7 linked regions of the Homo sapiens genome follow. The protein of the gene in region 7 purifies or fractionates together with the protein of the main gene of each other region. This does not show direct contact. Each region holds a gene or a part of one and is shown on either strand. Other genes may lie near its edges.

The links.
Region 1: the proteins of SLC16A6 (region 7) and ANO10 purify together in Homo sapiens (affinity purification with mass spectrometry; one large-scale study listed by BioGRID and IntAct). This does not show direct contact.
Region 2: the proteins of SLC16A6 (region 7) and CYP20A1 purify together in Homo sapiens (affinity purification with mass spectrometry; one large-scale study listed by BioGRID and IntAct). This does not show direct contact.
Region 3: the proteins of SLC16A6 (region 7) and ATP2C1 purify together in Homo sapiens (affinity purification with mass spectrometry; one large-scale study listed by BioGRID and IntAct). This does not show direct contact.
Region 4: the proteins of SLC16A6 (region 7) and CEP78 purify together in Homo sapiens (affinity purification with mass spectrometry; one large-scale study listed by BioGRID and IntAct). This does not show direct contact.
Region 5: the proteins of SLC16A6 (region 7) and TM9SF3 purify together in Homo sapiens (affinity purification with mass spectrometry; one large-scale study listed by BioGRID and IntAct). This does not show direct contact.
Region 6: the proteins of SLC16A6 (region 7) and RFT1 purify together in Homo sapiens (affinity purification with mass spectrometry; one large-scale study listed by BioGRID and IntAct). This does not show direct contact.

Annotation. Positions count from the first base shown.
Region 1 is NC_000003.12:43,618,965-43,623,648, forward strand, and holds the start of ANO10 (anoctamin-10), read right to left. Parts: upstream 3,048-4,684; 5' UTR 2,945-3,047; exon of another isoform or gene 2,809-2,944; intron 1-2,808. UniProt on the Homo sapiens protein: Does not exhibit calcium-activated chloride channel (CaCC) activity. Can inhibit the activity of ANO1.
Region 2 is NC_000002.12:203,245,302-203,249,361, reverse strand, and holds part of CYP20A1 (cytochrome P450 20A1), read right to left. Parts: intron 3,517-4,060; coding exon 3,467-3,516; intron 2,608-3,466; coding exon 2,441-2,607; intron 1-2,440.
Region 3 is NC_000003.12:130,900,123-130,904,182, reverse strand, and holds part of ATP2C1 (calcium-transporting ATPase type 2C member 1), read right to left. Parts: intron 1-4,060. UniProt on the Homo sapiens protein: ATP-driven pump that supplies the Golgi apparatus with Ca(2+) and Mn(2+) ions, both essential cofactors for processing and trafficking of newly synthesized proteins in the secretory pathway.
Region 4 is NC_000009.12:78,259,971-78,264,030, reverse strand, and holds part of CEP78 (centrosomal protein of 78 kDa), read right to left. Parts: intron 1,125-4,060; coding exon 1,047-1,124; intron 1-1,046. UniProt on the Homo sapiens protein: Centriole wall protein that localizes to mature centrioles and regulates centriole and cilia biogenesis. Involved in centrosome duplication: required for efficient PLK4 centrosomal localization and PLK4-induced overduplication of centrioles.
Region 5 is NC_000010.11:96,552,214-96,556,273, forward strand, and holds part of TM9SF3 (transmembrane 9 superfamily member 3 precursor), read right to left. Parts: intron 847-4,060; coding exon 715-846; intron 1-714.
Region 6 is NC_000003.12:53,099,287-53,103,346, reverse strand, and holds part of RFT1 (man(5)GlcNAc(2)-PP-dolichol translocation protein RFT1), read left to right. Parts: intron 1-80; coding exon of another isoform or gene 81-133; exon of another isoform or gene 134-152; intron 153-3,860; coding exon 3,861-3,966; intron 3,967-4,060.
Region 7 is NC_000017.11:68,277,148-68,281,207, forward strand, and holds part of SLC16A6 (monocarboxylate transporter 7), read right to left. Parts: intron 3,966-4,060; exon of another isoform or gene 3,854-3,965; intron 3,780-3,853; exon of another isoform or gene 3,760-3,779; intron 1,181-3,759; coding exon of another isoform or gene 1,174-1,180; coding exon 942-1,173; intron 1-941. UniProt on the Homo sapiens protein: Monocarboxylate transporter selective for taurine. May associate with BSG/CD147 or EMB/GP70 ancillary proteins to mediate facilitative efflux or influx of taurine across the plasma membrane. The transport is pH- and sodium-independent.

The sequences.
Region 1 (4,684 bases), on a different chromosome or scaffold from region 7:
CTAATTTTTTTTTGTATTTTTAGTGGAGACGGGGTTTCACCGTGTTAGCCAAGATGGTCTTGATCTCCTGACCTCGTGATCCGCCTGCCTCGGCCTCCCAAAGTGCTGGGATTACAGGCGTGAGCCACCGTGCCCAGCTATGGTTATACATCTTAATCAAACAGTAGTCTATTCATATAGAAAAGGAAGATAAATATCCCCTTCTAAGGGATAGGTTTTGGATATGAATTCAGGGGAGGTGTGTGCTTTCTAGCAGGCCTGCTTCACTTTACAGGTCTGCACCAGGTCATCCTGTTTAGGAGGATGCTCAGGTTAAAAGAGGCTAAGGACATATGACGACTAAATACAGTGTAGGATCTCAGACTGGATCCTAAATATTAGTGGGACAATTAGTGAAATTTGAATAAGGTCTGTAGATTACACTAATAGAATTGTATCAATGTCAATTTTCTGGTTTCAACAATTGCACCATCGTCATCTAAGATGTTCACATCTGGGGAAGCTAGGTGAAGGGCATAAGGAAATTTGTACTATTTTTGCAACTTTTTGTAAATCTAAAATTATTTCAAAACAAGAAACTTTTTAAAAAGAGCCTCTTCCAGGGGCTGGGCACAGTAGCTGAGGCTTGTAATCCCAGCACTTTGGGAGTCCATGGGGGGTGGATCTATTGAGCTCAGGAGTTCAAGACCAGCCTGGGCAACATGGCGAAACCCTGTCTCTACAATAAATACAAAAAAAAAGAAAAAAAAAATTAGCTGGATACGGTGAAGCTCTCGCCTGTAGTCCCAGCTACCCAGGAGGCTGAGATGGGAGGATCACCTGACCCCAGAGGTCAAGGCTGCAGTGAGCTGTGACTGCACCACTGCACGCACTGCAGTTTGGGCAACAGAGTGAGACCTTGTCCAAAAAAAAAAAAAAAAAAAATCCTCTTCCACCCAAAATTCCGTAATTTCCTAACACATACACACAAAAACTCATACACATTAAAAATAACAGTTTTGGATTCACACATGACATGAGATTTATTGTGAGCTTTTAACCATTAAAACAAAGGTTTACTGCTTATAAAAACAGAAGGCTAGAGACAATTTAACTGACAGATGAGAAAAAGGCTTAGTACAGCTCTCATGCAAGCCATGACAAATATATCCATTTGAGGAACACTGATTTTTCACCTCCAAGCACAGTACTAGGCACATAACTAAAACTCTAATATTTAAAAAAAGAATGAATCCACATGATGAATGATTATACAAGCATTTTCAAAGATGTTTAAGAAGAATTTGATCCACAAAAATGCTAAGTGAGAAAATGTAAGGTGGAAAGAAAAAGCAAAAGTATGAAGTAATATAACAATATTACCCCAATTAGGTAACAATACTACCCTAATTTTGTGTACATTCATATACACAAAAATACAAAAATTAGGAAGAAATGCATCAAAATGTTATTACATGTGGCAAAACTACAGATTTTAATTTTCATCCTTATAATTTTCTCTGTCTTCCAAGTTGTCTACAATGAAAAAAGTTGGCCAGCACAGTGGCTCACGTCTGTAATCCCAGCACTTTGGGAGGCCGAGGTGGGAGGATTACCTGAGGTCAGGAGTTCAAGACCAGCCTGGCCAACATGGTGGAACCCCATCTCTACTAAAAACACAAAAATTAGCCGGGCATGGTGGCAGGCGCCTATAATCCCAGCTACTCGGGAGAATCGCTTGAACCCGAGAGGCGGAGGTTGCAGTGAGCAGACATTGTGCCACTGCACTCCAGCCTGAGCGACAGAGCAAGACTCCGTCTCAAAAAAAACAAAAAGAAAAAAGTTTCAGTGGGTTTAAGTGCATTTACACACTTCAATTTATCAAGACTTTTCTATGCCCTTCCATTATTTTAGATCTTTCAAATTTCATTCATCTGCAACTCTACGATTCTTTCAGCAACAGCTGTTCAGAACAGATGATTTACTTTCCATAGCGAATTTTAAACTGTTTATCATGCAGAATGGGCCCTTAGAAAACATCTAGTCCTCTAGATTTGTATGACTTTAAATTAAAAGTAGACACTACAAAGTGGATTTAACCGCTTTAAACCCCACAGGATTAGATTTAAACTCCGCAGGATTTAAGGCAATATGATACAACTGTGTCTTGAGTCTGAATAAACCTCAGCTGCACTTTTTAAGTCTGGGATCTCCATACACCGTCCTGCTGGAATATAAGGTTTTACAGAAGGCAGCGCACACCAATGCTGGTGCTGTGAAGGCACCCACAAAATCAGACGCTGCCTATAGGGGAGAACCCCATTCCATCCACGTTTCTCAGGTGTCCCAGGCACTAGCCAGACAGGTATCTATTATTTAAACTGTACAGTATGTCCCAGTCAAAAGCCTGGAAACTCAGTCACCTCGATGTGAGCATTATCCTGCAAGCCCGCTCCGGCCAAACCTGCTTGGAGACAGCCTAGTCCGCCCTGATCCCCGGACTGCCCGGGAAGCAAGAACCCCGGGACCCGCGAGCTGACCCTTCTAAAAACCACCCTTCACTCCGCTCCGCCGACCACCCCACTCACTGCCTCCTTCCCCAAAGCGCTGAGGCCCCCAACATCCTCCATCCTGACTTCACCAGCCCCAAATTTCCGCCTCACCGCCTTTCTCTCAGGACTCAAACCCTCGCCCCAGACCCATAATCCCCTCCACAAACCTCTCCCCTCCCCTGCGACCGCCGCTCCCCGCAACACCTTCACTCGTCCCTGCCCCCACAGCCCCCGCGCCCATCCTGGTCCCACTTCCCATCCCCAGGGGTGCTGGCACCGGGAGGCGGCCCGGGAACGCAGGGCGGCGACCAGGCGGAGCTCCTGGAGCCTGCAGCGGCCGGGGCTCTGTGGCTGCAAGGGGCCGGGCTCTGCTGCGGACAGCTGGGGGGTCCGAGGTGCCCTCCCCGACTCACCAGCCGCCGCAGCGCTCCACGTCTTCGGAGGCGGGTCCGAGAGCCGGCGAGAACCGGAGGCCGGGCGAAAGAGTGCTCGGTGCGGGGGGCGGGCCAGGCCAGTGGGGCGGGCGCCGCCGAGCGCTGGGCGTGGCGGACGCGGCGGGGCCTAGATGCGGTCACACGCAGGGGGGCGGGGCCGCGGCGGGAGAGGCGGGGCCTCACTGGGCGGTAGCTCCGGGAGGGGCGGAACTGCGGTGGGAGGGGCGGGGCCTCACTGGGCGATCGTAGTGGACGAGAACCTAGACTGGAACCGGTCCGAAGAAAAAAAGGCAGCCCTCATTGGGCTGTCGCCTGGAACAGGAGACCAGGCCGGGAGAAAGGGAGGGGCGTGCCTAACGTACTGTACCACCCATCGAAATCCGGACGGCAGCGGGAGAGGCGCGGCCGAGAAGGCAGAGGCCTGGTTGGGCTGTCACTCCGAGCCGGGGCGGCATGTGGCTGGGCTCTCCAACCGCGAGCGGTCGGGGCAGGGGAAAGGAATACGCCCCTTCACATTTCCCTCTTCCATCTCTTAAAGACCAGAACCTAATTTTCTGGTCACTTTCAGGTATAAGAACAAGTCTCATTTTAACTGTAGCTCACTTTCAAGTTGTGAAAAACGCAGATCCTTTTATAATTAAAACCTAACATCCAACCACAGCCAAATCCCAAAACCCTTGCTCCTCCTAGAAATCGCCAGACACCTTTCCACCTCCAGGCTCAGAGTCTGCCCCAGCCATTCCTTCTGCCCAGAAAGCTCTTCCCTCGGTTGGCTGCTTGGCTCACTTCCTCACCTCCCTCAGTGTTTGCTGGGCTCTCACTTTCTCCCTGAGGCCCTTTCTGACCATCCTACTTAATACCTGTTCTCATCTGCTCCTCACCCCACCATTTCCTTACCTGCTCTCCTATTTCTTCTGTCCACCACACTTTTTGACTTTTTGTTGTTGTTGTTTTGAGATAGAGCCTCGCAATGTCACCCAGGCTGGAGTGCAGTGGCGCAGTCTCGGCTCACTGCAACCTCCGCCTCCCGGGTTCAAGCGATTCTCCTGCCTCAGCCTCCTGAGTAGCTGGGATTACAGGCGCGCACCATCATGCCCAGCTAATTTTTGTATTTTTTGTAGAGACAGGGTTTCACTATGTTGGCCAGGCTGGTCTAGAACTCCTGACCTCAGGTGATCCGCCTGCCTCGGTTTCCCAAAGTGCTGGGATTACAGGCGTGAGCCACCGCGCCCTGCCGGCTTTAAGTGTTTTTAGTTACCCAGGGTCTACCACAGTCTGAAAATAGGTGAGGCCAGAACAATAAGATATTTGGAGAGAGAGAGAGAGACCATATTCACCTTTTATTACAGTCTATTTTTATAATTGTTCTATTTTATTATTATTCATTGTTGTTAATCCCTTACTGTACCTAATTTATAAATGAAACTTTATCATAGTATGTATGTATGTGTAGGAAAAAACATAGTATACATAGAGTTTTATACTATCCTCAGTTTCAAGCATCCACTGTGGATCTTGGAATGTATCTCCCACAGATAATGGAGGATTACCAGCCCCAATGTTTAGAACAGTGTTAGGTCCATAGCAGACAAGCAATAATTCTGAAATGAAAAATTTAAAAAATGAATGAACACTTTCTGCCTCCATACATCCAGCTTTGGCCAGATCAATGCCTCAACAAACTGCAGTGCGGAGAAGGCTGGTCTGTTCTTTACTCCC
Region 2 (4,060 bases), on a different chromosome or scaffold from region 7:
TTTGTTTTTAATTTAGAGACAGTCTCAATGTGTCTCCCAGACTGGTCTTCAACTCTTGGGTTCAAGCGATCTTCGCACCTCGGCTTCCTGAGTAGCTGGGACTACAGCTATGTGCTACCGCATCCATTCAAGATGTTTGTTATTGTACTAAAATTTTTCATTTTTATGTAGACAGATTTATCTAACTTGTGTTTTATAGCTTCTAGATCTTGTACCATTGTAAGAGGTTTATCTACATTCTCTCCAACCAAAGAGAAAAAATTTAATATTTAACCATGTTTTCTTGTATTACCTTTATGACCTGATATTTTAATCATCTAGAATTTATTTTTATATAAGAAATAAGGCAGAGGCCAGGTGAAGTGGCTCACACCTATAATCCCAGCATTTTGGAGGGCAGAGGTGGGAGAATCGCTTGAGTCTAGGAGTTGGAGGCCAGCCTGGGCAACGTAGCAAGACCTCATCTCCACTAAAAAGTAAATAAATTAGCCAGGCATGGTGGTGCATGCCTATAGTCTCACCTACTCAGGAGGCTGAGGTGGGAGGATTGCTTGAGCCCAGGAGTTGTAGGTTATACAGAGAGCTATGATAGCACTGCTGCACTCTAGCCTGGGCAAAAGCTGGGCGGGGCGGGGGGAATAGAATAAGGCAGGGATTGAGATTTATTTTTTACAAATAGCTAACCAATATTCCCCAAAACATTTATTACTTTTCCCTTTTGTCATAAAATGCTATCTTTATCATACATATTTGGTTTGTCTTCTGAACTCTCTACTCTTTTACATCTGTTTGCCTAGCTTGACCACAGTATGAGAGTCTTTTTTTTTTGAGATGGAGTCTCCCTCTGTCACCCAGGCTGGAGCGCAGTGGTATGATCTCAGCTCACTGCAACCTCTGCCTCCCGGGTTCAAGAGATTATCCTGCCTCAGTCTCCCAAGTAGCTGGGATTACAGGCGCACATCACCAGGCCTGGCTAATTTTTGTATTTTTAGTAGCGACAGGGTTTTACCATGTTGGCCAGGCTGGTCTCGAAATCCTGACCTCATGTGATCTGCCTGCCTTGGCCTCCCAAAGTGCTGGGACACCAGGCAGGAGCCATCACGCCCGGCCAGGAGATTCTTTTTTTTCAAGAGACAGGTTCTTGCCCTGTCCCCTGGCTGCCTGGCTGGAGTAGAGTGGCGCAACCTTGGCTCACTGAAGCCTCAACCTCCCGAACTCAAGCAATCCTCCCACCTCAGCCTCCCAAGTAGCTAGGTCTACAGGCACATGTATCACATCTGGCTAATTTTTGTATTTTTTGTAGCAATGGGGTCTCACTATGTTGCCCAGACTGGTCTTGAACTCCTGGGCTCAAGTGATCCTCCCACCTTGGCCTCCTAAAATGTTGGGATTACAGGTGTGAGCCACTATGCCTGGCCAATACAAGATTCTTTAATCTAGCTTTATAATACTCTATACTAACTGATGGTACAAGTATTTCCCTCATTAATATTCTGTGTTTTTTGGAGATGGAATCTTACTCTGTTGCCCAGGCTGGAGTGCAGTGGTGCGATCTCAGCTCACTGCAACCTCTGCCTCCCAGGTTCAAGCAATTCTCTTGCCTCAGCCTCCCGAGTAGCTGGGACTACAGGCACACCTCACCACGCTCAGCTAATTTTTGTATTTTTAGTAAAGACAGGGTTTCACCATGTTGGCTAGGATGGTCTCGATCTCCTGACCTCATGATCCACCTGCTTCGGCCTCCCAAAGTGCTGAGATTACAGGTGTGAGCCACCATGCCCAGCCCATTAATACTCTTTTTAGGATTGTTTCCTGGTTGCTCATGTACATTTACTCTTTACTCTTCCAGATATACCTTGGAACTATTTTTTCAGGGTCCCAAAAAAATCCTGTTGGAATTTACACTGAGATTTTATCATATATGCTTATAAATTAAGGAAAAACACAATTATTTAAAATACTATCTTAAATTAGGCAATAAGACATCAGCACAGTGCCTAGCACATAGTACAAAGCATTCAATAAATGTTGGCTATTCCTATCCAAGAACAATATATATATACAGTTTTTATTTATAAACATTAATTCTTTTTTTATTTTTTTGAGACAGTCTCGCTCTGTCGCCCAGGCTGGAGTACAGTGGCACAATCTTGGCTCACTGCAGCCTCCGCCCCCGGGGTTCAAGAGATTCTCATGCCTCAGCTTCCCAAGTAGCTGGGATTACAGGTGTGTGCCACCACACCCGACTAGTGTTTGTATTTTTAGTAGAGAAGGGGTTTCACCATGTTGGCCAGGCTGGTCTCGAACTCCTGGCCTCATGTGATCCACCTGCCTCAGCCTCCCAAAGTGTTGGGATTACAGGTGTGAGCCACCGTGCCCAGCCTAAACATTCATTCTTAAAAGGTAAGGATCAGGTAATTAGAAAGAAAATTAAACTTACATGTCTTATTGGGATTGATATGCTGCTTCAGTACATCAACAGTGCCCAAACTAACCACGAGGCGCCTGCCAAACCAGAAGGAGACCACAGGCCCATATCTCTCATGCAAATTAACCAGGAACTCATGCAAACTTCCACTATTCACAATATCTGGAAGATTACCATCTCTGGCAAAAGAGCAACATTTGACAAAATAATCAATTTAATTTGGAAAAATGAGAAAAACAACAGTTGACTCTGAATTAACTGTATCAATAAATGAGAACAAAGGTTCATGAAATTCAAATTACTGCAAAATCCAAAACTCAATTATATTTGCCTTCTTGCTATATTTCTATAGTTATATTTAGATATGGATTTGTCTGATATTTTAAGAATTCTTAACACTTCAAACCAAATAAGAAAGCTCCATAGGAACATCCGACTTAGATACTGGAAAGCTATCCCACTTTCCCAGCACCTAATTCTGAGATGACAATGGACATCATCGGCTGGTGAAAATCATCAGATCAGCTATGGCAATCTTTTCCTTCTTTCCTTCTATCTTAATCCTCTTTTCAGCTTTCTCTGGCAAGGGGAAGTGAAAGCAATGAAATGTTTTGATTTACACGACCCTCCTTTCTGTTAACAAAGTTTAGGTTACATGCCAAGGTAAATTTAGGGCAATCAAAGGAATTGAATTGAATAAGATGAGTGATCTAAAAATATGGTTTATCATTTTGGTTTGTCTTCTGAACTACCTACTCTATTCCATCTGTCTGCCTAGTCCTACCACAAAATAACCTTAGTTTTCTTTTTACTTATTTATTTTTTTTAGAAACAGGGTCTGGCTCTGTCGCCTAGGCTGGAGTGCAGTGGCACAATCATAGCTCACTGAAGCATTAAACTCCTGGCCTCAAGCGATCTTCCACCTCAACCTCCTCAGTAGCTGGCAACAGCTACCATGATTGGCTAAAAATATGGTTTAGTCTTGATATCAATAATGAAGAATTAACTCTACTTAATTCCAAGAAAATAATTACTCACTTTTCTTCAGTTGGAGTAATCCCTGGAATTCCTGCAGCTTGTCTGGAAGCCTTACAAAAAAAAAGTTTATAATAATGAATTATCATATATCCCATAAGTCAGATGTGTTTCACCAACACATCTGCAGGACCTTAAATAATAGCTTTCCAATTAAGCTGAATCTAAGAAATTATTTCCATATTAAAATACAAAAAAAGGGGTTCTTTGCATGGAAAAGAATGATTTCCATGTCCTTTGCAGGGATACAGATGGAGCTGGAGGCCATTTTCTTTAGCAAACTAACACAGGTACAGAAAATCAAATACTACATGTTCTCACTTATAAGTGGGGGCTAAATGAAGAGAACACATGGACACATAGAGGGGAACAATACATGCTGGGGCCTTTCGGAGGGTGAGAGGATCAGGAAAAACAACTAATGGGTACTAGGCTTAATAATTACCTGGGTGATGAAATAATCTGTACAACAAACCCCCTTGATACAAGTTTACCTATGTAACAAATCTGCACTTGTACCCCTGAACTTAAAATGAAAAAAAAAAAAAAAATTTTTTTTTAAAGAATGATTTCAGCCGAGCGCAGTGGCTCAGGCCT
Region 3 (4,060 bases), on a different chromosome or scaffold from region 7:
ACTGGGCAAAAGATATCCAGGACCTCTTTGTACTATTTTTATACCTTTTATGTAAGTCTAAAGTTATTTCAAATTTTAAAAATCAACATAATTTTAGAAGATTTTAGAAAAACCTCTCAAAGTAAAGTAAATCTTTCTACCATAATTGAATTTGCATCCAACAGTTAACTACATCTGAATTATACTGCCACTCTGGGAAGAATTTGGCATTTTTTGATCATTAAATTAAAAAGTGGGCATAATACTCCATCTACTGATACATCTGTTTGTATAAATTATTCTAGGTTTGAAAGAAATTTGGTACAAGGATGGAGGAAAGGGGTATCATACCATCTACATATTTTTTAAACCCGTCCATTTTGTTGCCATCCTATATTAAGCATGCAACCAGTGTTTTTTAAAGCCTTCAGTGAGCAACAATTATTTTACTAGCAATACAGAAGATGGAAAGGAAAGGAAAGGAAAGGAAAGGAAAGGAAAGGGGAAAGGGGAAATGGGAAAGGGGAAAGAGGAAAAAGGAAAGGAAAGGGGGGAGGAAGGGGCAGAAGGAAAGAAGGGAGGGAGGGAGAGAAAGAAAGAAAGTTTTTTTAGATTCCTTTATACCTTCTCCTAATACCTCCCCCACCATGACCAATGACATTCATTTCATAAAGCAGCTAACTGGTGAACCTAATTTTACAGGCTATGACAAACCAAACCCTTATGAAAAGACATTATGGTGGCATTCTTAACACCCTGTGCTTCCAGACCTAAATAACTACAGGTACAATGGGGAGCCACGTAAGCCTTTAAAAGCAGTTGACAGTCAAATACAATTTAATATCATTTAAAGCTACCAACTTTGAATCCTATAGGGTTAAGTTAACCGATAATTTATTTGCTGTCACAAAATGTACTCTGTTATTATTTTCCATGTTTAAGTGGTGTTCCTCAAAAGCTAATTTTTCTAACCAACTAATTAATGAATGGAATATTTAAATAATCTTAGTTTAAGATGAAAAACAGGCAGGTTATTTCTAAATTCCACCTGCAATTAATAAAACGTACATTAGTAAGTCCAATACATAGTTTACCGAACTCAAGGACTTTTACCTACAGTAATTCCATTCTATAGATGGAGAAAATAATGTATAGTAAGAGTAAACCGGTTTTTTTCCTAAAAGGAAAGAAATAGCAGCAAAGAATTCCAGTGACTCCCTAAAAATGAGAATGCCACACAACTATGTACATGTAAGGAGACTTTAAACACTGAGGCTATGACTGGAATAGATCACTAAGGGATTGGTATTAGAGATGAAAATATCGGTGGTCCTGTCCCTAACACCACTGAAACATTCAACACCTTACAAAATAAAGGGAATATTCAACACCTTACAAAATAAAGTAAAAAGACACCCGACAAGCAAAAGAAAGCCACCTAATGAAGACCCTAAAAAGGAAATCTAAGGAAGAGTTCTGACTTCGGGGGGGGTCTAGTTAGAATAAATGGATAAAAAGGAAAAAGGCAATAGACATAGGAGGTCTAGCATTTTCCATGAGAAATAAAATTCAGTACATTTTGGTCTTGATTTCAAAGAATAGTAAAATTGCTTCCAAACAATAACAGTTCTGTGAGCAATAAATAATACATAAAATGTATTTACAGGCTAAAAAGTAAAATTTAAGGGCTTAACTTCATTGATCTACACTAAGGGTTTAACTTCATTGTCTACTGCTAGGTGAACACTAAATACTGAATCCTGAAATAGTACAAACCCAAACCAAAGTATAATCAAAATCATAATTTGATAAAACCATGAGAAAAGCATTAAGATTATAAAAGCTACTCTATGTTTCCTAGGCATCCCACTCACCTCTCAGAAAAAAAAAAAAAAAAAAAAAAAAACAAAAAAAAAAAACGTGAAGCCTTGAAATTAGCAGTTAAAAGACCAAAAGTAACTCCCCTAAATCTATTCATCAAGTAAGGTAAGGGAAATTAGGATTTGCTGAGAGGCTCTTTCATGCCAGGCACTTGTACACACCCTGCCTGGTCTAATTCTAACAAACCTGAAGTAGTCATAATCTCTTTACAAGTGAGGAAACCAAGGCTTAGAGGAGTCAACTTCCTTGCCGTTTGTTAGAACAGTGTTTCTCAATCTTGGCACCATTGACATCTGGGGCTAAAAAATTTTGAGGGTGGCGGGGGGAGGTAGAAGATGCTGTCTTACGGATTGTAGCATGCTTACCAGCATCCCTGGTCTCTACACACTGGATGCCAGTAGCATACTTTGAGTTGTGACAACCCAGCATTTCTCTAAACATTGCCAAATGTCCCCCGGGGGCAAAACAATCCTGAGATGAGAACCACTTAGAAGGAAGAAGCCAGCATTTTCATTCAATTGACAGTAGGTACGTCCCAGAGTCTGTTCAAGATGAATAAAGGACAAATTGAGGTCTCTGCCTTCAAGAGCTCACTTTGAATCCTGGTGCTTGATTTAACACCTCTCTCCATGCATAGCTATATGAGCCTCACATCATGACAGTCTGACCTATATATTCCCTTCAGCCAGCCCCTAAATCGGCTCACTCCTTCAACCACAATCAATGGCACCTTCACTGACCCAAATGACATCTTGCAGTCATGTCTGATTCAACTATTCCCTTAATTCTCTGTATCTAGTCACTGTCCAAGTCCTGCTGATTTTTCCTAGGAGTAAAATATCTCTGTCATCCATCCCTACCCTTCATTCCCATTACTCTAATATAGATACAAACCACACTCCCTTTATCTTCTAACAGATGAAATCAGGAGTAACTAATCTCTCTTGGCCCCTCATATGAATTAGGGGTACATATCAAGATATAATAACTGATCTACCAACTTTTAGGATAGAGGGCTGGCAGACTTCAGAGCAGTCCCCAATGACCACATCTTTCTCTGGGGTGGGGAGGGATGCTGGAATTTCTCATCTGATACTAGTTTCATAAGCCAAATATTAACTCTTAAGTAAACAGTAACCCTCACAAGCATTAAGAAAAGGACACAGCAGAAATTAGTTTGCATACCACTACAAAGTGGTTTGCATGCTATTTCTGGCATTTGTGCCATGAACTGCTTTTGCCTGCTTCAAAAGAAGGTAGAACTGACACTCAACAGAGCAAGTAAGGTACAACTCCCAAGCTTAATTAAGCCAACTAATATTTCCACCCCTGATGATGTAGAAACCTAGATGAAGGCAGGTAAAGCAAACATGCTGCTAGGGAAACACTAAAAATAGATGGCCAAACAAAATCTAGTGAAATGCCTGCATACAAAGAGAGATATAAATCTCATATATAACATATACAAATAAAATCACAGCATCAAAAGGCTAATTTATTTATACTACAAATGAAAAAGGCTCCGATTTAAGATGAGAGGAAATCCAGGACCTGGTTCAAAGTTGGATCTTGCCCTTAGGCAGAGAATAACAGAACGTTTATGTACTAATGTACTAATGCTCTATTCTTTTTAACTTCAGGACACCATAACCAAGATAAATTTCTGAAATTCACAACTTAACCAAAACTTTTAATTTTTACTTTGCGTGTTTAAATTTTCAAAAAAACACATTTACATATTCAAAAAAAAAGTCTGATGAGTGACATCCTAAATATTTCCACTTATTATTTCTGAGTTTTCCTATAAAAGGCTGATGGCAAATATATTTATTATTTAGGGTCCTGCTTTTTCCAACTTTATCAAGCTGTTTTAAGTAAGTAAATAAATAAATGAAAGTAATTTCTATAAGGATGCATCAATATCTCAAAGCTTTCTAAAAGAATAAAGAATGTCATACTAAAGCTGGGCACGGTGGCTCATGCCTATAATTCCAACAATTTGGGAGGCCAAGGCAATAAGACTGCTTGAGTCCAGGAGTTCAAGACCAGCATGGGCAATATATCAAGACCTCGTCTTTAAAAAAATTAAGAAATTAGCTGGGTATAGTGATGTGTGCTTATAATCCCAGCTACTCAGGAGGCTAAGGCAGGGAGATCGCATTAGTCCAGGAGTTAGGGGCTTTGGTGAGCTATAATGATG
Region 4 (4,060 bases), on a different chromosome or scaffold from region 7:
CTACCAGTAAAGACAGACCATATTAAATAACAATCAAAACCTGGAGATAACTGACAAAACCTCCTACATAAATAATATAAATAGTATTTCATTAATTATCTTTCAAAAAGATCACATTTCTAACAGCTTAAATACATACCTGGATCATTCTATATTTAAAAATTAGCTGTTTAAGGTTTCCCTTAAATTAGACAATGAAATAAAGAGTAAGCATTTTACAATTTGGCTGTTAAGGACTAATTTTTGCCAGTAAAATACTTAATATATAAATTTAAAAGTCCTAAATCATACCCAATTTACTAACTGTACAATTACCAATATTGCCCCTTTGCTTCTTGAAAATATGTACTCTCCTGTACACCAAATCTATTTATCTAATACTACACATAAGTCTAACTCTAGTATTTCTCAGAAAGGCCACTGTGTTCACAAAGCACCTTTTGCCTTATACAATCAGGTGCTCAACCTTTATTGAATGATTAACTGTCTTTCAAACCAATGCATATACTTTCAAAAATTCCTCCTTAAACTTGCTTTGTAATAATAAATTATAGTTATGTAGAACTTTCTAGTTTATGCCCTGCTCTTATGCACATTCACCTAATTTAGTCCTCATGGTATAGATTTTTATCTTTCATTGCATTCTTACCGGTTTTCCATTATCTTTTACCTTATTTATTCATTTTCCTAATTCCCCTTCAGTAGATAGTCTCATCCCCATCTTTTACGCAATTGTATATACAGTATAAGCCTAATAAATGCATTCTTGAATTGATGCATCATGAACAGAAAATAAGCTCCAGTCATATAAAAACAGAGGAAAAGAAAACAAACTACAATTTTTACATTTTTAAAAAACATGCTTTTTGGAATACAGATCACACGGTCACCAAATATAAGTAAATACAAACATTAACATACTGTGACCATTTGCAATACACTATATTTTCTCATTTTAAAGTTTATAAAGTGTGTGTATGTATGACTTAAAGTTAAACCAAAACCAAAACAAAAAACTCTCAAAAGGTAAGAAAACTTTTATTTACCTCACTGACTCGTTTATCAACCTTAAGCCTTATCACTCTTTCTTCCTTTAACTGCTTTAGGCACTCCTCCAGTTTTTCCTAGTATTAAGTAATAAAGTAAATATTATAATTAATTCCCAATATGATCCCCAAAACTCTTCCAGCTGTTGAGCTCACCAAGTGTTTAGGGACAGAGCCAGAAGTGAACTCAGATATCAGGATTATAGCCTACTGCTTGTATAATATCATACCATGCTAGGGAAATTAATTACCAAAAACATCAGATTCGCACATTACAGATTTATTTCCACTCTTTCCAAAATAAATTTATGACAGCTCACCATAGAAGGCATACACATATATTTATTGAGTCAAATAAAAATTAAGGCTATGAAAAAGAAATTCTATTCTTATTTGTGGATCCCTTATAATAGGAAGCCCTATTAACACACTTAACACACCTGAATTATGTAACAGCAAATTAAAAGTCAAGTAACCAATTAAAAGGGACAGGGCTCTTTCTGGTAAAGATTGAAATACAAAAGGAATTAGACATGATGGAGATTCTCCAATTCCTCCAGAGTGTTGAGGGAAGGAACTCTACCATACACTTACATTAGAAAAGGAAATTGGTGCCACTTTCTGGAGTAATCTTTAGTAAATACTACCAATTCAATGTCTGGGAATTTACCTTAAGGAAATCACCAAACATGTGGACAAAGATTTATCTACCAACATAATGTCACAGGACTGTTTACAACTAAAAGCCTCCAAATTGTGATTGGTAAAAAAAAAAAAAAAAATAGCACATCCCTATGATGAAATGCTCTATGGAGCCACTAAAAACAATGATATGGGTCTTAACCAGAGTTAATGAATGGTCGTTTTTCTTGGGAGATGGTCCATAAGCTAAGTAAGATTCTCTGATGTGGAAGAGCATTCAATGATGTGACAAAATATTTTGATATCTTTTTAAGATAAAAGGGCAAATTACAAAATATCCAGGTGTGTGTACCATGCAGAGGTGGTTTTTATTTCCCTCAATGTTTTTCACGATTTTCAAAAATTTTCTCAAAGGGCATATATTTTTATACTCAGAACACATTTGAAAAATCAGTAAATGCCCTAATAACTACAAATTCTTTAATGTTTCATTATCAGTTAAAGCCAACCAAGTTTTTATGGGAAAAAGGAAAAAGAAATTGCAAAATTCCTCTACTTATTATTTATATAATGGTTTTAATATTTAGAACTGTTATCAAAGAACTTCTAACCAAACATGGAAATAAGCAAAAAACTTATCACAATTGGAGAAAGAAGAATAAAATCCTCCATTCCTAACTAGTTCTAAAAATCACATCAAAGCACAATTACATGAAATTGTTTCTCCCTCTAGTGGAGGAAGTGAGAACATAATGTTACATATTTATGAAAGTTCCCTCCTCATTACTCCTTTAAAGAGTAATTCATGCTCCTTAAAGAAAATAAGGAAATATGAAATGAAACAATTAGAAAGTAAAATCACTTAACATTCCACTACTTAAAAACGACTAATGATAAAGTGTTGTAGTAATTTTCCTCCCTGACAGCTGCTCCCCTTTCTCCCTTCTACCCATGGAAAAGTTTATATTTTTTCTGGAACACAACCCCAGAAATATCAAATGTTATCCTGTACAACAACCCTTGAATATCAAGGGCTTGAAGTATGCAGGCCCATTATATGCAGATTTTTTTCAACCAAATGCAGATCAAAAATACAGTATTCTGGCTGAGCACGGTGGCTCATGCCTGTAATCCCAGCACTTTGGGAGGCCGAGGCAGGCAGATCACAAGGTCAGGAAATTGAGGCCAACATGGTGAAACCCCGTCTCTACTAAAAATATAAAAATTAGCTGGGTGTGGTGGTGCGCACCTGTAATCCCAGCTACTCGGGAGGCGGAGGCAGGAGAATCACTTGAACCCGGGAGGCAGAGGTTGCAGTGAGCTGAGATTGCGCCACTGCACTCCAGCCTGGCAACAGAGCGAGACTCCATCTCAAAACAAACAAACAAACAAAAACAAGTATTCTCCAACGCAAAAGTTCATAAGGAGGACTGACTTTTTATATACCCTGGTTCCACAGGTCAACTGTGGGGCCTGAGCATGCCTGCATGGATTTGGGTATATGCTGGAGGATGGGGTCATGGAATAACCCGAGTATGCTGAGGGAAGACTGTATATCCAATTTTATGTTAGACATTCTTCCATTTAACACTGAATCAGAGAACTCATAACTCTGACTTTTTTTTTTTTTTTTTTTGAGATGGAGTCTCGCTCTGTCGCCTAGGCTGGAGTACAGTGGCCTGATCTCGGCTCACTGCAAGCTCCACCTCCCAGGTTCACACCATTCTCCTGCTTCAGCCTCCTGAGTAGCTGGGACTACAGGTGTCCGCCACCACGCACAGCTAATTTTTTGTATTTTTAGTAGAGACAGGGTTTCACCATGTTAGCCAGGATGGTCTCGATCTCCTGAACTCATGATCCACCTGCCTTGGCCTCCCAAAGTGCTGGGATTACAGGCGTGAGCCACCGCACCTGGCCAACTTTGACTTTTTTAGTGGGCTAAATAAAATATTCTACTGAGCCAGCTTACTGGTTCATGTAATCATTCCTTTATGGCTAACAAGACTGTTTCCAACTTTCAACATTATAAGATAAAATAACCACTTTTAAGCATGAAGGTTTTGTTCTCCCATATTTAGAATAATTTTCTTGCAATAAATAAAAAAGGAATTTTAGGTCAAAGCAAATAAACATTTTTAAGGCTCTGCAATACTTACATCCAAATTGCTTTCCAAAAGATTTCTAAGATTTTATACTGCTACTGGCAATGAAACAGTCTATCACTTGGATATATCACCTCTACTCTGTTGACTTACCTTCCCACTTAAAGTGCAAGATATTCAAGAGAAGGAAGTATATTTTATTAAGTGTTTATCCCCAGCATTTATGTGTACCACAAAGCAGACAACCAATAAATAATTGCTGAATAAAGA
Region 5 (4,060 bases), on a different chromosome or scaffold from region 7:
GGCCAAGGCAGGAAGATCGTTTGAGGCCAGGAGCTCAAGACCAGCCTGGGCAGCATAGTGAAATTATCTCTACAATAAATAAAAAAATAGCCAGGGGTGGGGGCTTGTTCCTGTATTCCTAGCTACTCAGGAGGCTGAGGTGGCACGATCACTTGAGCTCTTGAGTTTGAAGTTACAGTGAGCTATGATCGCACCACTACACTCCAGCCTGTCTCTTAAAACAAATTTCCTAAATTTATTTAATGATACAGTATACCTATACCGAATATCCATTAGCTAGCACTCTATGTAACACACTTTTTGTTCTCTAACTTAGTAAAAGAACTTAGAAAACAAATCTTTCCTCTGAACCCACTAAACTGAACATAAATTAATCCTTCTACCCATTCCCTGAATTTTAAGCAGTATTTAACAGTATTAGACATATTCTTACTTGGTGGCAAAACTTGGCTTGAACTAACAAGAGGTTACACTATTTATTTATCCCACTTCGGGTGAATGTTCTTATGTTTTCCTGAAAAAAAATTAATATTATTTGATTACAGGGCATGGTTACAGACCACACTGGGCATTTTACATCTTTCTTAACTCTAAAAATCCTGAATTGTGGAAACTCAAAGACTTCCGGTAAGAAATTATGACCTACCTCCCAACATTTAAAACTTAACACTCAGTTAAAATGTTTCTACAAATATAATGTAAATGTTTACTCACCATATCATCCATTTCTTCCTCTTTACTGTACCGAGCATAATCTTTTCTTAATGTTCTCATTAAAATCATTGAAACTAAGCCCACCAAGAAGATCACCATCATGAAGGAGTTGAAAATTGAAAACCAATGAATCTAAAATAACAGAAAATAAAATGTTACCAACCTGCAATATCAGCCACAAAATTCATAGGTTCCATGAGGACAACCGGATGTTAATGCAAAGAAAAAAAAAAGTCTTTAATTAAATCCTTTAGACAAAAATCCAAATTTCAGACACTTTGAGGATGAGTATTCATTATGCCAAGGGGATTGGCTTTCTTTACAATAAGCACCCATATGTTGAAAACATGCTATCATTTATATAAATTTTCAAAATCAAATTTATTGTTAAAAACAAAAAGTACAATTTGGCCATATAACCTATGCTATTCAGCATTACATGGAAAAAACATGGGCTCTGGAGTCAAACATTGCCAGTTTCTGACTATGTGACCGCGGTTTTCTCATCTGGAAAATGGAGGAGCTAATACTTATCTTGTAAGTGATTTGTAGGGCTTAATAATGTATATATAAAGTATGGCACCTTAGATACTCAGTAAATGTTAGTTCCCTTCCCCCTAATTGAACAATCTGAAAACCTCCTTAAAATACTAAGACTAAACTATTATAGCTGGCTGCCATGGACTTAGGTCACCATCCTGAATGATTTGCTTCACTTGCTCCAGATTAGTTCATCCTCACCCTGTCACCATCATAATTCAGCCCTTTCCAAATCCATTTTCCATAGCATATTGAGGTATCCTTTAGTTCCTCAATGTTCTTGAAGCTCTTGGCTTTGATTTTATCCACATATTTGTTTCAATATTACATCTAGATTCTGATTCATAATCACAAGGTACTACTCAAAATGTAGCATATCTGATTTGAACTAGGTCTGTGGCACTGCCCAGTTATTTCTTTATTTACATTTTAATTCCCAAAAGATCTTTAGGGATAGTCCCCAAATTTCTCTCCTCTCTTCAAGGCCCCAATGCCATCCTTTCTGCTGCCTTCCCTTGAAGCAAATCCTGTCTTCTATGACACAACCTTTCCACATCCAGTTTTGAGGTGTTTTTTCTCCTCTCATTTTGCATCCCAACCCCTCCACCTTTCACCAGCCATCAGCAATCTCCAAAGGTCCTTATCTACAATGATGTCTACTCCCTGGGGTTGTCATAGAGTTTAAACAATAAAGGTAAAGCAAATAGTATAGTGCCTGGCACATCATAAACACTAAATAAAACCTAAAAGTTATTGTTATTGCTATTATTCTCTTTTGAAGTGTTTGCTTCATCTTTTGTCCCTCATTCTTTTCATCTTCTCACCTCCCGATCCTTTCAATGTCAATACTTTTCAAAGAAGACATGTTCCAGTTCTTCCCTCACTTCCTCCAAAACACAATACAATCTCACTTTTGCCCCACAAAATTTCTCTCAAAGGCCTGCAATGAACTTCTAAACCGATTCAGCAGCCAATTATCTGCCTCACTCTCCTTGATCTCTCTGCCACATCTGACCTTTCCTGACACTACAGCATCCTACTTCACTGACCGCTGCTTCTCCTCTTTCATCTTCCATGCTGGCTCCTCCCATCCTTTGTGAACTTCTCCAAAAGCTCCAGTCTTAGTACTCTGCTGTGACTTCTTTAGGCTCTCAGAACTTTTAACCAGCATTCCAATGATGATGATAACACCCTCGCCCCCACCTCCCATCCCACCCCAAATTGCTAGTCTTCTTTCTCACTCATGTTTCAGGCTTTTGCTAACTACAATAATTTCCACTTGAATGTTTCTGGAATTGCAGACTCAGACTGCCCTAAAGTACACTCATAATCTTCCACCTCATATATAACACTTGTTTCTGATTCTCTAACTTCTGCTAATGGTACTAACATGTGGCTTTGAAATTTTACAATTATCTCTGGCTCTTCCTTCTCCTTAATTCTTCATAGGTAATATTAAGCATGTATTTTTCTTCAAAATGACTTGTATCTATCCATTCTGCTTCATTCCCATGCCATCACCTCATACCTTGATAGCACTAATGGCCTCCTGGTTGGCCTTTTTTTTTTTTGGTCTCTCCCCTTCCTTTCAATTTATCCTGTAAAAAGCTATCAAGGAAATCTTTCCAAAGCAGGTTCATATATCACTCCTCTATTCTAAAATTTACAGTTGTACACCCTATTTCTCTCATATCAAATCTAAACTATTTTCTCCAATATTCTATACTTCCTGTAATATGGCCATCTCACCTTATCTAGTCAACTTTTCTTTCCATTATATTCTATATTCCAATAAGCCTTATCCCTCTTCAAGAATCCACAAGCACAGCATACTCACTTCCACCTCTGTATTTTTCTTATAATTTCTTCTCACATAGATCTACTTCTACTCCCCTTAGCAAATTCTACCCAGTCTTCATATTCCAACACAAGTACCTTCCCCTCCATGAAACCTCTTATCTACATATTCCGGTTCTTCATAGATATCCTCCTGCTCTAAAATTCTACAGGTACATACATATGCATTGCTGTGTATGATTAGGACATATGTTAACTTGGGCTAACGTGCTGAATATGTGCATGAAACTGAAGGGCAGTCCAGGCTCTGTTATCCACCCTGAGGTTTCAGGAACGAGATAAACTCTATGGATCTTCTTGAAAAACAGGAGACAGCCTCTTCAGAAGACTATTCCTTACTTCATTCAACAATTTATTTATTGAGCATCCAGTAAAATTATAAAGGAACCAAGAAATGCATTGTTTTTTGAAATGTTTGCTCAAAAAAGGTTATATAAATCTGAGTTTATTGTAAAAGTATCATTTAAGGTTCATAAAAGCAGTCTATGATTTTCCAAAGATTTGATTTTGTTCCCACCCTGAGATGTTAACCCAGAAAAGCTCAAGAGGGAAAGAAAAATGACACATACCATCTTTTAGTCAATTTATCAAATTTTTTAAAATAAAAGAAGTTTTATATAGTTACTAGTAACTATACTAATTAGACACACATAAAATGTTGTAATTTCTAACAAGGCTCTGCTATTTTCTAATCTAAGATATACACTATTATAATGTAGTAATAACCTGAAATTTTGTAATATTCCTTTATTCTAAAAATTATGAGATGTTGTATAATTGTGAAATTATTATACCAGGGAAAATACTTCTTAAAAATAAAGAAACCTGGTGTCACAAAGGGGTTTACTAACCCTACTAATGCTGCATGCCAGCACCCTCTAGTGTCACTAATCCTGAAGCTGCACCCTCAATTTGTCATAAATTTAGAATGCAACTGGAGATAAATAAC
Region 6 (4,060 bases), on a different chromosome or scaffold from region 7:
AAAATGTGCTGGGCTGTAAGCTGGCAGTCCATTTGCAGTGCTTCATCTTGGGTTTAGCAAAGATGTTTTTAATTTCTCAGGTCGCTGGACAAGAACGCTGAGGACTTCTTTCTGCTGCCCCATCTCAATATAAAGGGCTTTGTCAAATGCCATTTTACAAGTTCACTAGCATGTTTTAGTCTCCACTACAATGGGGCCCAAACTTTTGGTGTTAGGGGAGGAAGGGCCAGGTTTCTATACCAGAGCAAAGGTCATTAAGTTTGGAGAAACACCTGCTGTGAAACCAGTGAAGTGGTTTGCAGCTCCCTGGGGCTTGTGCTGTGAGAAGTGTATTTCCATCTGGCAGCTGTGGGGAGGCCTCATGAGGAAGGCATTAGTAAGTTTATGGGCAGAGATTGGGAACTCGACTATTCTGTAGCAGCTCTTCCCCTTTAGAAAGCAATCACCAAGGAGCAGCCTCTAATGTCACACAATCACAGGGCGTTGCCTCAAGGAGGGGGCTGTCCCATCATTATCATGACTCAGCCCATCATCTTAGTTTTGAAAGTGGAACTCGCAACACTGCTGTCCCCAGTTGTGTACTTGTCTTTGTCTTCACCCTGGAAGTGGACTACTTACCTGTGAGCTGTACTGGCCATCTCCAGATGTGGGACTCGGACACAGCACGGACAGGCTTTTGTGTAGGGGTGTGGCTTCTCTTCCGTTGTTTGGGATTAGCCCTGCATTTAATTAGGGTCTTTGTAAGTGTTCTAGAGGCTTTTCTTAGAAATCCTTCTCACACCTAGCTTTGCTTTGCTTTTTCTTTTCTTTTCTTTTTTCTTGGTAACTCACAGAACAACACCTAGCTTTTCTATCCTTAAGCAAAACCCACACATTCACAGAATTTCCCCAAGATTTCTTACATTTCTCTCTTAGGTGCTTCTCTCTTGTCCCTCTGCCTTTTACTTTTTTCCTTCTCTATCCCCTTGTCTTAATGAACTAGGGCTGCCATGACAAAGTACCACAGACTGCGTGGCTTTAAACAACAGAACATATTGTCCGTCAGTTCTGGAGGCCAGAAGTGCACAATGAAGCTATGGCCAGGGCCGTGTTCTCTCTGAAGGCTCGAGGAGAGGCCCCTTCCTACCTCTTCTAGTTGCTAATGGTTGCTGGCATCCTGGCGTTCCTTGACTTGCAGCTGCAGTACTGCGGTCACATGGCTGTGTTCTCTCTGTCTTCACGTCATCATCCCCCTTGCGCTCTTCACGTCATCATCTCCCTGCACGTGTCTGCCTCAATGCAAGTTTCCCCCACTTTTTTTTTTTTTTAGTGAGATGAAGTCTCACTCTATCACCCAGGCTGGAGTACAGTGGTGTGATCTCGGCTCACTGCAGCCTCCACCTCCCGGGTTCAAGAGACTCCCGCCTCAGCCTCCCGAGTAGCTGAGATTACAGGCACACCCTACCACACCCGACTAAGTTTTTGTATATTTAGTAGAGACGGGGTTTCGCCATGTTGGCCAGGCTGGTCTCAAACTCCTGACCTCAGATGATCTGCCCCCCTTCAGCCTCCCAAAGTGCTGAGATTACAAGCATGAGCCACTGCACCTGACCAAGTTTCCCCTTTTTATAAGGACACCTGTCATATAGGATCAGGGCCTGCCCTAATGACCTCATTTTAACTCAGTTTTCTTCATGAACACCCTGTTTCCAAATAAGGACAGATTCTCAGGTACCACTGGTCAGGACATTAACATATCTATTTTGGGGGGACAGTTCAACTTAAAACACCCCTCAATTCAGTCTACAATCGAAGGTTGGTTCCATTCTTGAATTCCCCAAATGGACACAAAACCCTTTACGTGAGTCACTGATTGGTGCCAGAGTTTGTGTTCTCCATGCCTCACGACAGCCCACTGTTCACCTACTGATGGGCCCTCCTGTGCCATTAGCGTTCAGTTACCACGTAAGGAGGCCCCCCACTCTTCTCTGCTTCTGCCAGGGAGAGGAGGTTGGGGAGAAGCAGGAGGCACACTTGAGCATAGCCTTGAGCCTCCCGGGTGCAGAGCCTGGTCCCCGCCTCCCTTCCTGGAGTCACCGTCAGCTGGGGTGGGGGCCAGGCTACTTCCTGCAGCGGCTTGACAAGCAAAATGCAATGTGAGGTGATAAACATGGAATCTGAGACAGGGCCGTGGAAAACGGTTTTTTGTTGAGCGTCGGGGCTGCCCTGTTAGTATTCCTTTTATAATTTTGTGACTGCCATAAAACTGTTTAGGGGTCCCACAGCATGGAGATCTTTTGTATTAAACAGCTTTCATAAACCCTGAATGAGTTCCAGATTCTGAGACTCCGGAACTTCAGTCCCCCTCCTTTTCTTTCAGTGGTTATGTGTTTTTTTTGGGAGTTTTTTTTCTCCCTTTGTTGAGGTATAATTTACATAAAGTAAAATGCTGTTCTCTTAAGAGTACAGTTTGGTAAGTTTTGACAAATATGTACAAAAAATCCCATGTAACTACCAAACAGATTCAGACATAGAATATCTCCATTTCCCCAGAAAGTTCTTTTGGGACCCTTTCTAGTCAACTACCCCACTCCACCTCAGAGACAAAGAGAAATCAGAAGAAATCTGATTTCTATCACCATGGATCAGTATTTCTTTTAAAAGTAATTTTATATCAATGAAATGCAGCATGTGCGCTCTTGCATTTGGCATATTTCCTTCAATATAAAGTTTTTGAGATTCTTCCATGGTTTCGCATGGATCAGTGATTTTTATTATCTTTTCTTGCTAAGTATTCCTTTGTGTGGATGGCCCACGTTTTGTTTATTCTTTCTTCTGTTGATGGTCAGTTTTGGCTATTATGAATCAAACTGCTACAGATGCTTTTGTGTAAGTGTTTTTGTGAACATGTGTGTTCATTTCTGTTGGATATATACCTAGGGGTGCAATTGCTGGGTCGTAGGTTAGGTGTTTGTTTATTTTATTAGGTGCTTGATTATGGCCCTCTTAAAAGGGGGGAATCAATCCCATTTGTAAGCCTCCTGTTCTCTGCTTAGAAGATTTTTCCGAAGCTTGTTAGCTATAGAACTGCATTACTTTGTTTTAGAAGAAAATACTATTATGGGCACTGGTTCTCACTTTGGATTTGTGTAATTTTCTGCTGGTCCTGGGCCCCTGGCTTTTGTTAAAGGTCTTTTCTTCAGGACCTGCTCAACTGAGATTCCCTTAACATGCAGGGTCACTACTGACTTTGAGTCCAAACCAGCAGGCCTATTCATGCTGATGAAAAAAGGGAACAGACTTGCTTGCTAGCCAGATAAGCTTTTAGTTGTCCAGCAAGAGATCTGTACATTTATTCATAATTGTTCTTTTTTGTGTGTGTGATAAGGTCTTGTTCTGTCACCCAGGCTGGAGTGCAGTGGCACTATCATGGCTCACTGCAGCTCTGACCTCCCCAGACTCAGGTGATCCTCCCACCTCAACCTCCCGAGTAGCTGGGACTACAGGCATGCCCACCACACACAGCTAACTTTTGTATTTTTGGTAGACACGGGGTTTCATCATGTTGCCCAGGCTGGTCTCTAACCTCTGGGCTCTAGCAGTCTGCTGGCCTTGGGCCTCCCAAAGTGCTAGGATTACAGGTGTGAGCCACCGTGCCCAGCCTGTCATTTTGTTTTTTGCTGATTATTTAGTCAATGCCATAGAATGTTGGGAATCCTTCTAGATTATTAAGACCCTGGGCTCTAGCATGCAGTCTGCCCATTGCTGATACCAGCAGACCTCATAGTCTGGTTCTGGTTCTCTGGGTACTCAGCAGCACTGAGGGTACATGTGGGCCTTCTGATTGGGCTCTGGAGTCTCAGTGAGTTGTTTCCTTGTAGGTCCTGTTTTGCTGCGTTCCTACTGTCTCTATGTTCTCCTGCTTGCCATCAATGGAGTGACAGAGTGTTTCACATTTGCTGCCATGAGCAAAGAGGAGGTCGACAGGTGGGTAACCTAGCAGGTACACCTTTAATCATGGCCTTCAGCCAAAATGAAATAACTTGTCAAGCTTTTTGCTTTTCGTTCTGAACATGCATTT
Region 7 (4,060 bases):
TTGAGATGGAGTCTCACACTGTCGCCCAGGCTGGAGTGCAATGGCATGATCTGGGCTTACTGCAACCTCCACCTCCCAGGTTCACACGATTCTCCTACCTCAGCCTCCTGAGTGCTGGGATTACAGGCACATACCACCATGCCCAGTTAATTTTTTGTATTTTTAGTAGAGAGGGGGTTTCACTATGTTGGTCAGGCTGGTCTCGAATTCCTGACCTCGTGATCCACCTGCCTCGGCTTTCCAAAGTGCTGGGATTACAGGCGTGAGCCACCGCGCCCGGCCGCAACTTTTTTCTTTTTTGAGATGGTGTCTCGCTCTGTTGCCCAGGCTGGAGTGCAGTGGTGTGATCTCAGCTCACTGCAACCTCCGCCTCCTGGGTTCAAGCAATTCTCGTGCCTCAGCCTCCCAAGTACTGAGGATTACAAGTGCAAAACACTGTGCCTGGCTAATTTTTCTATTTTCAGTAGAGATGGGGTTTCGCCATGTTGGCCAGCCTGGTCTTGAACTCCTGACCTCAACTGATCCACCCACCTTGACCTCTCAAAGTGCTTACAGGTGTGAGCCACTGTGCCCGGCCATCAGCAACTTTTTGATGTTGCTTCTTAGACAGTGACTATATCCTCACATCCTCACAAAAGGAGGTTGACTGCACTCCTTAAGGGAATCTACAGAATCCTAAGAGTGTGCAGACAGCAGATGTTTAATACATGTGTGTTAAACTGAAGGCTGTCATGGCTGGCAAATAAGGCTTTTTTTCTTCAGTGCCTTTTGTTTCTTGCCAATCCTCAATGCTCTGAAAACCCTGTTAGTCAGGGCTAGGAAGGACCAACAGGCGTATAAGGGAATGAAAGCATCACAAACACATCGACTACCATTACCAAGGTAGCCAAATTAAAAGGGCCCTATACTTACGTCATGGTTAGGCCGAAAGATGTACTAACCTGAAAATGTTAAGACAAACACACAGATTGAGATTATCCATGAGATCCTGCTATTGGATTCATTAAAACTGTCCATTAAGTCATTAAAGAAGACACCAAATGTCTTGATGATGCCGTAGGTGAAGACTTCAACGAAGAAAAATGAAACAGCTACCGCCCAGCCCCATCCTCCATCAGGCACTTCAGTATACACATTGGCTTTGGAACAAAGCTTTAATTTATTTTGGGTCATTCTTAATCTGAAAGAAAAAGTTAAAAGCAATTCAGATCAGCAATAGCATGAGGATCGATGATTCTCATACTCTTAAGCAAACAACAGATAAGAACTACTTACCCCATTTCTTAAGTTGTTGAATATTTATTTATTTATTTATTTATTGAGATGGAGTCTTGCTCTGTCATCCAGGCTAGAGTGCAGTGGCATGATCTCAGCTCACTGCAACCTCTGCAATTCTCCTACGTCAGCCTCCCAAGTAGCTGGGACTACAGGCATGTGCCACCACAGCCAGCTAATGTTTTTTCTTTTTCCTTTTTTTTTTTTTTTTTTTTGAGACAGAGTCTCACTCTGTTGCCCAGGCTGCAGTGTAGTTGTGTGATCTTGGCTCACTGAAATCTCGGCCTCCCGGGTTCAAGTGATTCTCCTGCCTCAGCCTCCCGAGTAGCTGGGATTACAGATGCCCACCATCACACCCGGCTAATTTTTGTATTTTTAGTAGAGATGGGGTTTTGCCATGTTGGCCAGGCTGGGCTCAAACTCCTGACCTCAAGGGATCCACCCGCCTTGACCTCCCAAAATGCTGGGATTATAGGCATGAGCCACCACACCCAGCTGATTGTTGAATATTTAAATCATGTACAAGCAGTATAAAGTATTTGGATACTTTTATGCATATATATGTATATACAAATCTTGGTATTGTACATGGGGCCTCCCAAAAAGAAAGTTAAATGGGAAAAACAGACATGAAGAACCAGAGCAGAATATTTAGAAGCATATTGAAGGACACCAAATGGCCACCAGACCAAGTATTAATGCTGACCTTGAAGGACTCAACTTAGGCAAAAAAAGACTGAATTGACCATAAGGAATGTTGATCAGAAATGAAGCCTAGAAAACGGAGGCTGAAAAGCAAACATTGGCGGTGCATCCAGCACCTTCCACCGAGTAAGTGTTTGAGATACCATAAGCGTCTCTGCTTGATGTCCCTGGCCACCGCGATCACCTAGTCAACTCTTCTTCCCCGCCATTTTCTACTCAGTAAGCAATATTCTGATTATGATTTGGTGTTCCATGTGGATGTACCTACACAGACACAATGTCACTATAAATCAAAATGAGGGCATTCTGTCTTCTGGGAGTTTGTTAAGCAGGAGTAATTTCCTCAAAGTTGACCACCACTTAGTATATTAGCAATTGAATTTCCAAGTACATGATGATACTCTAGAATATGGTGTCTAAATAAGGTACTATTATACAAGCCTGTAGGGCCCCATCTGGACACCAGTTAACTGAGTTACCCCTAACCTCACTGTGCCTCTCCATTCAAACTGCAATAAACATCAGAACAAGCCAACCTGTCTTAACACTTCTAAGGAGACATTGACATTGACATTGGTTTAACTTAAGTCTTCTGGATTGGGCTCTAGCACATGAATACTGTCTTTTTCAAAGCCTCTGTAATTACATATACTTTGAAACAGTCATGTGTATTTTTAGCCTAACTAAAAATTAATGATATCTATAATAATCAATGAGTCCATGGTCTTCAAGCTCTTAATGGCAACCAACTTCAAGTTTAAGAATTCTTTATGGCTGGGCGCGGTGGCTCACACCTGTAATCCCAGCACTTTGGGAGGCCAAAGCGGGTGGATCACCTGAGGTCAGGAGTTCGAGACCAGCCTGGCCAACATGGCAAAACCCCGTCTCTACTAAAACTACAAAAATTAGCTGGGCATGGTGGCAGGCACCTGTAATCCCAGCTACTCAGGAAGCTGAGGCAGGAGAATTGCTTGAACCTGGGAGGAGGAGGTTGCAGTGAGCTGAGACTGCACCACTGCACTCCAGCCTGGGCAATAGAGCAACTCTGTCTCAAAAAAAAAAAAAAAAAAAAAGAATTATTTATATATGACCCAAAGCAATCTACAGAGTGGATTCCTATCAAAATACCAATGACATTCTTCACAGAAATAGAAGAAAAAAATCCTAAAATTTGTATGGAACCACAAAAGATCATGAATAGCCAAAGCCATCCTGAAAAAAAGAACAAAGCTGGAGGCATCACACTAACAGACCTCAAAATATATGACAACACAACAGTAATCAAAACAGCATGGTACTGGCATAAAAACAGACACACTGACCAATGGAACAGAAGAGAGAACCCTGAAATTAATCCACATGTCTACACCCAACTGATTTTTGGCAAAGGTGCCAAAGACATTCATTGGAGAAAGTTCAGTCTCTTCAATAAATGGCACTTTGAAAACTGGATATCAATACAAACAATGAAACTAAATCCCCACCTTTCACCCTATACAACAATCAACTAAAAATGGATCAAAGACTTAAATGTAAGACCTAAAACTATAAAACTACTAGAAGAAAACATAGGGGAAACACTTTAGGACATTTGTCTGAGGAAAGATTTTTATGGATAAGACTGGAAGAGCACACACAACAAAAGCAGAAATAAACATGGGATTATATTAAGCTAAACAGATTCTGCGCAGCAAAGGAAACATATCAACAGAGTGAGGCCAGATGTAGTGTGTCACGCTATAATCCCAGCACTTCGGGATGCCAAGGTGGGTGGATTACCTGAGCTAAGGCGTTTGAGACCAGCCTGGGCAACATGGTGAGATGCCATCCTTACTGAAAATACGAAAAATTAACTGGGCCTGGTGGCACACACCTGTAGTCCCAGCTGCTTGGGAGGCTGAGGGACGAGGATTGCTTGAATCCAGGAGGTGGAGGTTGCAGTGAGCTGAGATCATGCCACTTCACTCTAGCCTGGGTGACAGAAGGAGACTCTGCCTCCAAAAAAAAAAAAAAAGAATGAAAAGACAACCCACAGAAGGGTAGACAATATTTGCAAACTATTCATCTGACAGGGGATTAA